Regions from separate parts of the Homo sapiens genome. Here regions 2 and 3 are each reported to be linked to region 1. The links are microRNA targets in miRTarBase. Many come from high-throughput screens and were not tested one by one. Region 1 holds a microRNA gene; each other region holds the end of a gene's coding sequence.

Region 1 (4,067 bases):
CCCTCGCATGCTCCCTCCCGCCTCGTGTCCCTCTCCCCACCCTCCCCCTCCTCTCTCCCGCCTCCCTAACACTGCGCTTTGATTCTGTTTTTCAGGGGCGCATTCTGGGGTCTCTGCGCAAGACCAGCTCTCAGCTCTCTCTCCTTTCCTCGGACTCTGGAGCGGGAGCGGGCCTTTCCCTCGGGTCGACCACGCCGTAGGGGACGCCGTGAAAAGAGCCGTCGCGCCCGCTGCCTCCTGCCCGCTGCGCAGAGGGCTCCGCCCGTAGAGGTCAACTTCCCTCACCCTTTTCTCTCTCCTGCTTGCCCTCCCTCCGCCCGGCCCAGGCGCTTCCAGCCCCAGACTGTGGCCACTGGCTGAGGAGTGCGAGTCGGCTGCGCTGCCCTGAGCCTAATCCCTCTTCCGGGCCCAGACCCGAGGTCCGCGCTCCTGGGCAGTGGGGAAGCTTTAGTGAGCAGGCTTTTCTCTCCGCAGCAAACTTGTAGCCAGACCAGATGGGCCGCCCAGCTCTCTCGGGACTAGGCAGGTGCGGATGAGTTAATTTTTCCGCATTACAAAGAAAGATGACCCAGCCCGCCCTTGGACTCTCTTTTCCCAAAATCTCCCAACCAAACCCGCGGTAACGTTATCAAAGGACACAGAGCCCAGGCATATCTGTGTGTTTATCTTACAGGCACACACGCATGGTTTTCTCTTTTATATGCTAGATTTCATCCCTGACAGCAGAAAATGATTGGCAATGGTTATGACGGAGAACATGCAATAGCGTGGTCCTTAAAAACCTGCCATTCCTTACAAGTGCCTTAGAAAGGATTCAGGGCGAACCAACTGGGTTAATTGCATTCAGTAAAATAACACGATTACAAAATTAGATCTGTACCAGAGGGGTAATTAACTTGGATCCACGCCGTCATTTGAAAACTAGATTTATAGGCTTATGTATGTTTTTAGGCGTGTGCTGTAAATGGCATGGAGATATATGCATATGTATACGCAGGCACACGCACCGTCTACACTTCCACGGAACAGACTAATTAACAGCGGCTCTGGCAGATGTGTCAGAGATGAGCAGAGACAGGAGCTGGGCTTATGAGTTATGACTCTAGGGGTAGAGACTCAGAGCGGAGAGAGGGGGATGGGCAGGGAGAGAAGAGTGGTAATCGCAGTGGGTCTTATACTTTCCGGATCAAGATTAGAGGCTCTGCTCTCCGTGTTCACAGCGGACCTTGATTTAATGTCATACAATTAAGGCACGCGGTGAATGCCAAGAGCGGAGCCTACGGCTGCACTTGAAGGACACCAAAGCATCTCAGGGTCAGAAAGGGGAAAAAGCAATTGCAGGGAATTTAGGGGGTAGTAAAAGGAACCCATCTCTTGCCGCATAAATGCCCCCCACCCCCACCCAGGACTGATTCTGGAAGCAACCTAGTGTTCGAAAGGGAAAGGCTCCTACTTTTCCATTACAGCCGCGGAAATCCGCAGGCAAATCTCCGAGGAGAATTTTAGGGAAGCTTCATTGACAGCTGTCTGGAGAGCAGTAGTTCCCGCCTGTGCAAATATTCCAGAGAGTTAAATCATTTAGAAAGCACTAGTTCTTTCAAGAACAGGTAGTGTGATTGTCTGCAGTCCTGGGCCAAGCTGGGAAAACAAAACAGCAGAGAGAGGTGTAACATTAAATAGCGTCCTGACCACACTGCGCAAGAAACAGCAAATGAAACGTCCAAACTTTGGAAAGATCTGAAGAACACTTGCCGCCCGCATTTCCCCTTGACTTCTCCCTTTTTCTTCCCAATCTCGAGGCGTTCATGCCTGGCTTTAAGACGCCAAGATAACTCTCTTGTTTTGGCATTGTCGCAATGTCCAAATCGGTCAAAGGAGTGGGATAAGGTGAAAGGACCAGGTCAGAAACTTTAGAAGGACTCGGTAAATTAATTTGTTTGGAAGCCAGTGAGGTGGACTATGTTGAGGTAGCAGTTCCGCACCACGACTTTGGAGCCAAAGAAAAACCCAGGCCGAAAAAGCGAGCCTTGATGTCTTTGTTCTGCCTTGGCCTGCAGGGGTTGGGAACAAAGGAGAGGAGCTAAGAGGATGCACCAAAGTAGCCGCGCCCTCCCTGCCTGGCGCTGTCCGCGGTGCTGACCGTGGCCCTTTTCTCTCTCCGTAATCAAACTGGAAAAGCAATAGGACCGTCCCGTCCCTACTCAAAAGAAGAGTAGGATATTAGGTAATTTGAAAAATAACATTTAAAAAGAGAAAAAGGTCACATACAGCAAAACAATATTTTACTGAAATCGTTCCCTCAAGCTGGTTGCTACCCTTGCCTGACACTTTTTGGTCTTCACGTAGGAATGCACACATACATACATTGTAAGTGTATGGGGAAACCATTTCCACTTTATTTAGGCTGAAACCTAAATCGCAGGATTGCAAGAAGGAAATTGAGGAGAATGAAGGCTTTATTATTATCCTTTTCTTTCTTAAATCATCTTCCTTAAAACAGAAACATAAGGTCCTCAGCCGCGGATTTTAGTGCTTACTTGGTCACCAAAGGGACGTGCAATGGACTCAAGTGTGGGCCTCGAGGCTTAACTAGGAAGGGGTGGGTCGGGGACCCACCAGGTGAAACAGGGCAGGAGCCCATGCAGCTTGCCACCTTCGGCCAGGCCTTGCAGCCCGGCAGCCTTAGTAGACGGGTACAGAGGGCTGAGCTCTGCAGACCGCTCTGCTGCGCAGGAGCCTGCTCGGCGCATCCCAGCCGGCGGGAGGCACTGGAGGGCCAGGAGGCCTGAAACCCGCACTGCGGAAAAACCGACCTCAGCCACATCCTCATAGCTCACGCGACGGAAAGAGGCAGGGCGGTTTACTAAATCTTATGCAGTGAAAATTCGCCTTAGAAATCGAAGGTTGGATGAGTCAGTATTGATATATTCAAAAATCTAAATTTCTTAGCATATTTCATCGTTCTTAGATGTTGAAAGTATTAAATGTAAACAATACAAATTTAAATTCCCTAAGTAATGAATCAAAATGGCAAGGGAGAGAGAGAGAGAGAGAGACGGAAAATCAACCAATTCGTAGCCACCCTGGCTGGCTATTTCTCAAAAGAAATTTCTATGCATTTGCTTGAGTTTGTCTATAAATTCACAAACATAAAGGGTGTTAAAATTAGTAACAGACAAAATAATTCAGGTTGGACAATAGAGACAGCAACACCGATTTTGATCCAGGTATAACAATGGGCCATGCATTGACAATGACCTAAAAGACATGTGTTCATTAAGTTATTTTTTTTACACGGGATGTAGATGTATCATAAAATTCATGAAATAAAGCGGCCAGGTGCAATATCCTCAGAGAGCTGCCTTCTCACCCCCTGCCTCAGGGCGGATTTTATCTGTCCTCGAATTTTAGAACTCTGCAAGTCGGGTCTTTCACATTCATCGATTACTTTGGTTTATATTTAATTTTATCCAATTTCGGAGTGGGTGGGTAAAGCACACTGGAAAATAGGGGCTGCTCGAATTACAAAATTTAAGGATTGGGAATATTCCTCTTGTGCCAATTAAAAGCAGTCGTTGGAAGCAGAAATGAATTTAAAGCATTACACGTTATCATGGCGGCCTTGCTTTTTCCTTCCAGTATTCATCCAATTGCGCTGATCTCCTGCATCCACATCTTGCGTAATCCACAAAGCAGCTATGGTCCAGGGCTGCAAAATCGTCCTGCCTGATTCCTTTAGAATTCATACTACCTCAGAGGAGCAAACCTAATCCCCTCAGCCTAATCCTACCTGTTTAGGATCATCTAAACTTGTCCTTCAGAAAGCTTGATCAGTTTAAAATTGCTTTCTAAATAGAAATGAAATACGTGATATGAGAGAGGTTAAAATACTGCTTAAAAAGGGAAACACTCAATTTAGTAATTCGGTTGCCTAGATGAAATCGAGTGGCTATTGATCCGTGATGTTTCTAGATTTTTAAGACTATGTACTTCCTATTTCTTTGGAAAATAATCATCCAGTTTGATGCCCATTACAAATTTTCCTGCTATGAAAGAAATTCTATGCG
Region 2 (4,064 bases), not on the chromosome of region 1:
AAGTCCAACATGAATTGGTGATCTACAGTACCCAGGAGGCGGAAGGCTTGTACTGGAGCAAGAAACACATGGGTTATCGCCAAGCTGAATTCCAGATTCTGAAAGCTGAGCTGGAAAGAACCAAAGAGGAAAAGCAAGAGTTAAAAGAGAAACTGAAGGAAACAGAGACACACCTGGAAATGCTGCAGAAGGCTCAGGTCTCCTACCGGACCCCAGAGGGAGATGACCTAGAAAGGTTAATTACTAGGGTTTAGTTATCAGCTTGTGAGTGCTAATGGGAAGCATCCCTTAGGACCCCCACTTACTGGCCGTAGACAAAGGAGGAAGCCTTAATTCACAGGCCACCAAGAATTGAGTAATTACTTCTTAGAAAGCTGCAGCCAGTCTCCCTGTGCTTGGTGGCGTTGTGCTTTCTTCTTTCTAGCTAATGAAAACATAACTGTTGAGAAATGTGGTTCCATTTTGAAGGGGCTTCATTTTATTCTGTTGGTTAATGACTTCATGTCATCTCTTCTCCTGCCCCCTCACTCCTTCATACAGGGCTTTGGCAAAGCTTACGCGGCTACGTATCCACGTCAGCTATCTCCTTACTTCTGTCCTCCCTCACTTGGAGCTTCGTGAGATCGGGTATGACTCAGAACAAGTGGATGGGATCCTGTACACGGTGCTGGAGGCAAATCACATACTGGATTGAGCACCAGACTGTATACCCTTCTCTTCTCTTATCTTCTGTCTGTTCTCTTTTCTCTCCCTCCCTCACGTCTCTCTCTCTCTCTCTCTCTCTCTCTCTCTCTCTCTCTCACCCTCACCTTTATGCCTTATATAGAGAATCTCTGTGTAAATCCTGGCTCATAATCAGTCTCCTTTTTATCAGTTTTGGTGTGGAGAAAGAGGCCAGTTTAAATAGGCTTTCAAGAGTCTAGGGTCAGAAAAGCAATAGTCACTAAGCTAGGTGACCTGAAAGCTTTAATTTTCATGACCTGGATATGTGGTCTATTGTATATCTTTTTCTGAAATGGTTTGTATTCATTTAGGTTAGATCAATCAGCAGATATTGGGTCCGGTATACCAGGTATTATTTTGGGGTAAGCTAACAAGTACAACTCATGTTTGCAGCCTTCGAAGATGTAACAATCTCGTTGGAAACATAAGACATACATCACATTATACACAAAAGTGTATGATATGTACAACTGAGTGGTACAGATATGACATGGAAGATCTGGGGGAGGAAGTTCAAGGAAGGCACCACACCAGAAATGGGACCTAAATTAAGGCTTAAAGAATGAGCATGGCCACACTGTCAGTGAGTGTTCTTTAGGTGGTAGGACTATGGTTGATATTTTTCTTCTTCCTATCTTCCTGCCTTTTTCAGATTTTCAATATTAAACTTGTTATTCTTACATTGGAAAAAAATAAATTGTTTTTAAAAAGATCAAGTAGGCTTGGATTTGAATATCAAATGAGAGATTATGTGAAAATATAAGGTAATGTTATATTTCTAATTTATATTAAATTTAGCATTACCTCTGGAAGAAGAAAAGCATAAACAAAGGCATGGAAAAATTTGGAATGTGAAAAATGTGTTCGATAGAAGTGGTGGGTTAATATAAAGGGGACTAAGGTTATATCATGATCTGTTCGCCTGCTTTGGTATTCGCATTTTAATAAGGGATTCTTGAAAAACCTATAAGGCTCAAATTAAAAAATATATTTGTCATCAAATTAATGGGATTTCAGGTAGTTAGGGAAGTACTTTAGAGTGGAATCTGATGTCCCTCAGAATATACCTACTTACTCTTCAGGCTAGTGCTGAGTGAGGGGTAAACTTCGTACTATCAGAAATAGTAAAACTTATTCTCTTGTAAAAGGAGACATTGTATTCATTTCTTTATTGTGTTTACATAGCACATACTCTCCAAAGAGTTCAGGGTACTTTTCAAAAGACATTGAATAATGAACACATAAAAATATACCAACAGTAAAAAGTAGGAAGTAGAGGAGAAACAATCAAAGGAAGGTGAGATCAAGCAGTGGCAAAAGGATTAGCTAGTCCAGAGGAAATGTCTTGGATATTCATTCTGTTTCTCCTCCACAGAGTTACTTCAGAACACTTTTCCAAATTAATTTTAACTCCTTCGAAAGGGGGCTCATAGTACATAGCCCAAGTGAGACTGCAGGGAATGAGGGGAGGCCAAATCCAGGCTTCATCATTAGAATGAGTACTTAAAGATACCCCCTGCCCCCTTACCTTCCACCTCACCCCAGCTCTAGCTTGCCATATGATTAATTTTCATGTTAGACATTTGGATTATGATAGTCAAGGCCGCAGTTGTCTAAATGTAAATAGTACCGAGGGAAGAGTAGCACATTCCGACATTCTCTCAGTGAGACTTATTCATCAGATGGGGGCTGTGAGTGGGTGAGATTTCACACAGATGGATGGGAGTCTGCTGGAAGGAAAAATTCAGAGCATTGAAGGTTCTGCCTGTGTGAGTGTTTGTTGGGTGAATGAGGGGACTGAGTAGGAAGGAGGGCAGGCAATGAGGCTTTAAAGGGAAGAAGGTAGGAAATTTGAACTCATCTTTCCTAGTGCTTACTCTCAGCCCATTCCCTGGTTTGTGGACCTGACCCCACACTGCTTTTTCCAGCACCACTGTCTGTGTGAGTCCATTCACTTCAATACCAGAGCCACCTCTTTGTTTCCTATTTACTAAGAAGCCATACCAGCATGAGATCTCCTTGATAGTGTTAAATCCCACTGTGGAAAGATTGAAAAATATCTCCCAGCCTTACCAGAGGTTACGATCTAGTGTGGAGGCAAAAGACATTGAGAAGAAAAAAGCAGGTGCCTCCTCCTGGCTCTCCTGTTAGGTTAACATAATCATAATTCCCCTTTGAAATGTCTCCCACATTTGCCCTTTAACTTCCTATTGCCATGATAAGCATTTAGGTTATTACCTAAATAACTTGTTACCTCATGCCTTGATTATCTAAATAAATTCTTAGATGGCCTCCCTTGCCTCCTGTTCTCCCTCCTCGATCCGCCCTACTCAGTGTCACCAAATTTTGTTTTTTAACAACTTCGTCAGGTCATGCCTCTGCTTAAAGACTTGCTAGTGTTCCCAATTGCCCACCGAGTACAATACAAATTCCCTAGGATGGTGCTCAAAGCCCTTTGTGATCTGGCTTCAGTCATCCTTTCTAGAGTCATCTTGAAACATTCCGGATACAAGCCACATTCCATCTAAACTGAACAATTTTCCAGTTTCTGAACATGCTTTTAAGATTTCTCCCATCTCCATCTTTGCAATTTCATTCCCTTTAGCTGCAATGCTTTCCCTCATCATCTTTCCTTTGGCTCAAATGCCAACTTTTTCCTGCAAACTTCTCTGATTAACCCAGCTAGACAAAAAATTTCTCTGTGAACATTTAAGTTTTCAAGGCTTTTATCACAAACATCCTTGTCCTGTCTTCCCTATTAGAAAGCTCTAGATTCAAATATTCAGCTGCCTACTTGACATGTACACTTAACATGCCTCATTAAAAATAAGCAGTGATACACCCTGGGGCTGTTCCCTTTCTCCCAGTTTTCCTCATCTTAGATAATGGCACCTCCACCCATCCAGTTGTTTAAGCTAGAAACCTGGAAGTTATCCCTAATTTTCCTCTTCTCTCACTCCCTACATCCAGTCTGTCAACAAGTCTGTCAGTTCTACTTCCAAAGTGTGTCTTGACTCTCCTCACTTTTACTACAGCTACCTTAGTCCAAACTGCCATGATCTCCCATGGGTTATTATAACTCCTAGCTGGAGTCCTTGCTTCTACTCTTGTTCCTACAGTTGTCTATAGACAGTGATTTTTTTTTTAAAGTAATAGATCATGTGACCCCCCTGCCTGAAGCCCTTAAATGACTTCTCATTGACACTTAGAATAAAATCCAAACTGCTTACAGTATCCTGCAAGGCCCCTGCCTACTTATACTTTGTCTCTTGCAACCCCTCTTCATATACCACTTTCCCCCTGGCTCACTGTAGTCTTCCTATGGACACATGTCGAGCTCT
Region 3 (4,064 bases), not on the chromosome of region 1:
TGTGTAGAGGGGTGGGGAGGTGTGCACCGAGCAGGGGGGTTGGGGGCAGCTTTCACAAGCCACTGCCTCCGCTGACTGACCTTGGCAGACTCACCTTGGGCAGCTTCCTCCCTCTGCAGTGTCTCCCCACAGTCTGTCTTCTCCTCTGCAGCTTCCCTGTGGCCTAAGATCCTGTCTCTCAGCTCAGGAGTCTCATTCTGCTCCCCAGTTCTGCTCCAGAAAGAAAAGTGGGCCTGAGCTGTGGGCGCTGAAGCAATAGGACTGCATGCGTGTGCTGTTTGGACCTTGATTTGCTGGTTTTCAAACGTTATCGAGTCCCCGGTCCTGGTGCCTTTCCCCAGGCAGGGTTTGGCTAACTGCCCTTCCCTGGGCTCCTTTCTGTCATCTCCTTCCCCAGTGGGGACAACCTTACTGTGGTAAAGGTGCCAGGAGGACCAAGGGGCAGGGAAGCTGAATCCAGGGGCAGAGAGAACCCTGCTCTCCACCTGCCCCGGCTTCTTAGGCACCATCCTCCTTGACAGAGGGAATGAAAATAGTCATTTGCAACCCCTGCAGCCCCATTCTGGAGGGAAGGTGCATCTTTTTCTTACTTATCCTCTCCTTCCTTCTTTCATTCAGCATCTACTCCTGGCTTCCTTTCTCTCGGTCACCTTAGGGCTTTTGCATTTACCCTTCCCTCTGTTCACCCTTACACTCAAAGACATACCTGCCTCCTTCTCAAAATTTTTGAAGTGTCAACTAAAATGTCACTTCCTCAGAGATACCTTTCTCGGCCACCCCAGCTAAAATAGCCTCCCTACCTGTTGGTTTATGTGGTTTCCCCAATGGGCTATTCAAATGGAGTAAGCAGGAGAAGTTAATTAAGGTGCTTTATGAAGATGTGAACCAACAGTATCTGGGGAAAGTTCCTGGAGTGGTGAAGTCCCCTGGGCTAGCCCAGCACGGGGGGCGCCTGAGGGCCAGGAATCCTTTGGGAGGGACTGTGGAGAGCGCCGGTCAGCAGGGGGCTCCCACCACTCTCCTCCTGCCAGTCTCACCCCCACCCCATGAGAGGCTGGTTGATGTAGGGAGGCATCCACCTGGGGACTGTGTAGGGTGATGAAGGGTGGAGAGGGTTCTGGAGGGGCAAAGGAAGACATTCAGCACACTTGTTTATTGACTTTTTCTTCCTACTCCTTCTGCTGAGAACTTGTCTCATTCCTAGAAAAGATACTCAACAAATACTTGTTGAATAAGTTACGTTGGCCAAAACCAATTGAGGTCAGATTGAAAGCCTCTTTCAGGAAGTGTGCCCTCTGGCTCTGACTCACACCCCTGGAATATGATCTGATGCAGAGGATTGGGATGTGTTCAGCTGCTGCACGTCACGCTGGGATCACAGTGGGGAGACGGGGATGTGACTCCCCCAGACTGGGTGCCAGTCAGGAAGGCTCCACTAGGCACCGGCCCTGAGGACCTGACTGGGTGAGCGGGGGCCTGAGAGGAGAAGCAATTCAGAGCTGTGGGAACAAAGCCTGGGCTTCATGCTGAAGCAACCCAGGTCCCATCACCCAGAACCTTGAAAGTAAGTCAAGGGACAGTGGTCTTGAGCTGAGAGGAGGAAATCCGGAGGTTGAGTCATTTACCATGTTCTGTACAAACCCCCCTTATGCAACCTATCCCCCTGGGCTGAAAGGAAGGTGTGAGGATTCTCCCAGGTGCCCACAGAGACTGGTACCTCCCCTCCTTCTGAACTCAGGAAGCTCCAGTCGGTCCCTCCACTGAAGGTTCAGATCTCTCCCTCCAAACCAGACCTGGGGCACGGGCCTCCAGGACACAGAGGTGCCCGAGAGACACAGAGGCAAAGGCAGGAAAAGGACTGAGTCCTGGGCAAGGTAGACATGCCGCACACGGATGCCCGAGGTGTGGGAGGGCTCTACCGCTGGAGATTTGAAGAAGGGAGAGAGATCTGGGATGATCCAGACACCAGTCTCTCACCTTCTCAGAAAATTATTCCTTGATGTCTGACTCAGCCTTTCACAGCATTGGCTTAGGAGAGACTTTAAGAAGCCCGTAATCTGTCCCTGGGTCCCTGACACTGTTGGGCACTGTTCTTTATTGAATGTGATTCATGTGACACTCGTACTGAGGATCTGTGAGAAGAGTGTAGCGTGGAGTAGAGAGACAGGTACCACGTACTGAGGCAGCAAAGGGACTCAGTGAGTGTCAGGAGAAGCCTCTTACCCCTCTGGCCCTCAACTGCTTTATCTGTAAAATGTGGCTCACCCTACCTTGCTGGTCTGAGGGCAGAGCCCACCAGATGATCTCTTGAGGTCTCTCCCAGCACATCTTGAGATCTGCGATTTTACAGAGCCAATTTTGGTTCTACCTCTAAACAATCGTGTGACTCCAGGTAAGTCCCTTCCCCTCTTTGCAGCCTGTTTTCTTACCTGCAAAATGAGTTTAGATGAGATCTCTGAGGTCCTTTCAGTTCCAGCAAAATGGAGGAATCATAATAAATATGCTTATTACATGCAAAGTTTTCTTTTTCTATGAATATAACAACACTACGGAGTGGGGACAAATATTGCAACCATTTTGCAGATGAGGAAACTGAGGCACAGAAAGACATAATGGCTCAAGGCTCACAGCTAGTAAGTAGCAGTGTAAGATTCAAACTGAGGCTCTTAATTATTGTACCATTCTGTCTCTTAGGCTGTAGTCCAATGCAAAAGAAAATGCTGTTTCGAATGATGGGTTTCCCTGGCACGGGCAGATTGTCATCCTCCTTCTCACTACCAGTGTTCTCATACACAAATCCGGTCTCCAGGTCTTTCCCAACCGATTCCTGTCCCATGCACTCAATTCTCAAGCTTTAGGGAACTGGAGCCTCAGGGATGAGGGACAAAGGATGGAAATGAATGGGTGGGAGCAGCGTGGGGAGGGTGTCCATCTGGTAGACTGAGGCTTTGGAAATGGAGAGAAGAGATGGCGGGCTGGATCAAGGGACCATAAATATGGCAGAGCCATCAGGAATTTTCCCATGGTCACCTGGGGCAGGAGCTCCCAGACCTATACCTCAAGGTGAGAGAGAGTGGGCCTGGGATCAGCAGGCCTGGGCATGAAGGACTGTGTGGTGCCGGGATCTCCCTACAAGCTGAAGATCTTTGTTAGCAGAGCATACAAAGGTGCTCCAGGTCCTGTGGGGGGCGGGGATGTGCCTTCAGCTCACAGAAGGGGGTGATGGGGGATGTCAGGGAGAGAAGAGCAGAGTGACAGATACACGGCCTGGCTGTGTGGTATATTGGGGGTGGGCTGTGGACAGCATGTCTGTGTTTCCACATGTCCACTTGGTCATGGAAACAAGAGGTGCAGACCTAGCCACATGCATCCTCTGTCCCCAGGGTCCTCCATGACACACACACACACACACACACACACACACACACACACACAGCCAACAGTCCCAACACCCAGTCACAGTGCAACTTTATTCAGCCATATAATCATTATGCTGGGTCCTGCCCTCTTTGCCACCCCGGTTGCCATTTATCCATGGTCTATGTCTCAGGGTTCTAGGCCCCCAGCAGGATGGGGGTCCGCAGAGTTAGGCCGTGCCAGGGAGCCTGGTGCCCACAATCCACCAGCCAGCCTCAGCTGCAACCCCCCACGCCCTTGATGAGGTTGGCCGCCTCAGGAATCTGGCGGAAGAGGTTGCGGAGGGTGTCTAGCTCCTGGGTGAGCTGCTCCACGCGGCTGCGGAGGCGCTCGTTCTCTGCCATGTACTCCAGCACCTTCTGCTGCGTCTCCAGAATGCGCCTCTTGGCCTTGTCTCGGCTCTTGCGCACGGCGATGTTGTTGCGCTCCCGCCTCAGCCGGTACTCAAGGCTATCTTTGTTCACTGCCTTCTTGCCCTTGTGTAAGGGGCCAGCCGGGGAGGGCGCCTTCAGGAGGGGACTGCAGGGGGGTGCGGCAGTGGCCAAAGGGGCCTGGAGGGGAAGGCACGGAGAGACGGAGAGGTGAGGGCTGGCCAGGAGGCAGAGCGGAGGCGGGGCGGGAATCTCGGCAGCCAGGGCACACTTGAT

What was found. The annotated mature microRNA hsa-miR-124-3p reads UAAGGCACGCGGUGAAUGCCAA and lies in region 1 at 1,247-1,268, shown strand. An mRNA with a match to its seed (bases 2 to 7 or 8) in the 3' UTR can be bound and repressed. Matches are read on the target gene's strand: a 7mer-m8 pairs with bases 2 to 8, a 7mer-A1 pairs with bases 2 to 7 and ends in A, and an 8mer does both.
Region 2: miRTarBase lists MORC4 as a target of hsa-miR-124-3p. Seed matches in the 3' UTR shown: 7mer-A1 at 815-821.
Region 3: the mRNA of CEBPE is a reported target of hsa-miR-124-3p. The part of its 3' UTR that is shown has no 7-base or 8-base seed match.

What each region holds. Positions count from the first base shown.
Region 1 is chr8:64,377,964-64,382,030 of GRCh38, forward strand. MIR124-2 (microRNA 124-2) reads left to right here and starts at 1,186; the gene lies at 1,186-1,294. MIR124-2HG (MIR124-2 host gene) reads left to right here. Exons shown (of 3, transcript NR_109792.1): 2 at 96-526; 3 at 3,640-4,067.
Region 2 is chrX:106,938,109-106,942,172 of GRCh38, reverse strand. MORC4 (MORC family CW-type zinc finger 4) reads left to right here. Exons shown (of 17, transcript NM_024657.5): 16 at 1-235; 17 at 541-1,435. The coding sequence ends at 694. Among named protein-coding and RNA genes, the nearest start is that of CLDN2, 20 kb to the right of the region's middle.
Region 3 is chr14:23,113,855-23,117,918 of GRCh38, forward strand. CEBPE (CCAAT enhancer binding protein epsilon) reads right to left here. Exons shown (of 2, transcript NM_001805.4): 2 at 3,452-3,968. The coding sequence ends at 3,633. Among named protein-coding and RNA genes, the nearest start is that of CEBPE, 3.4 kb to the right of the region's middle. RefSeq lists enhancers at 28-746, 912-2,111.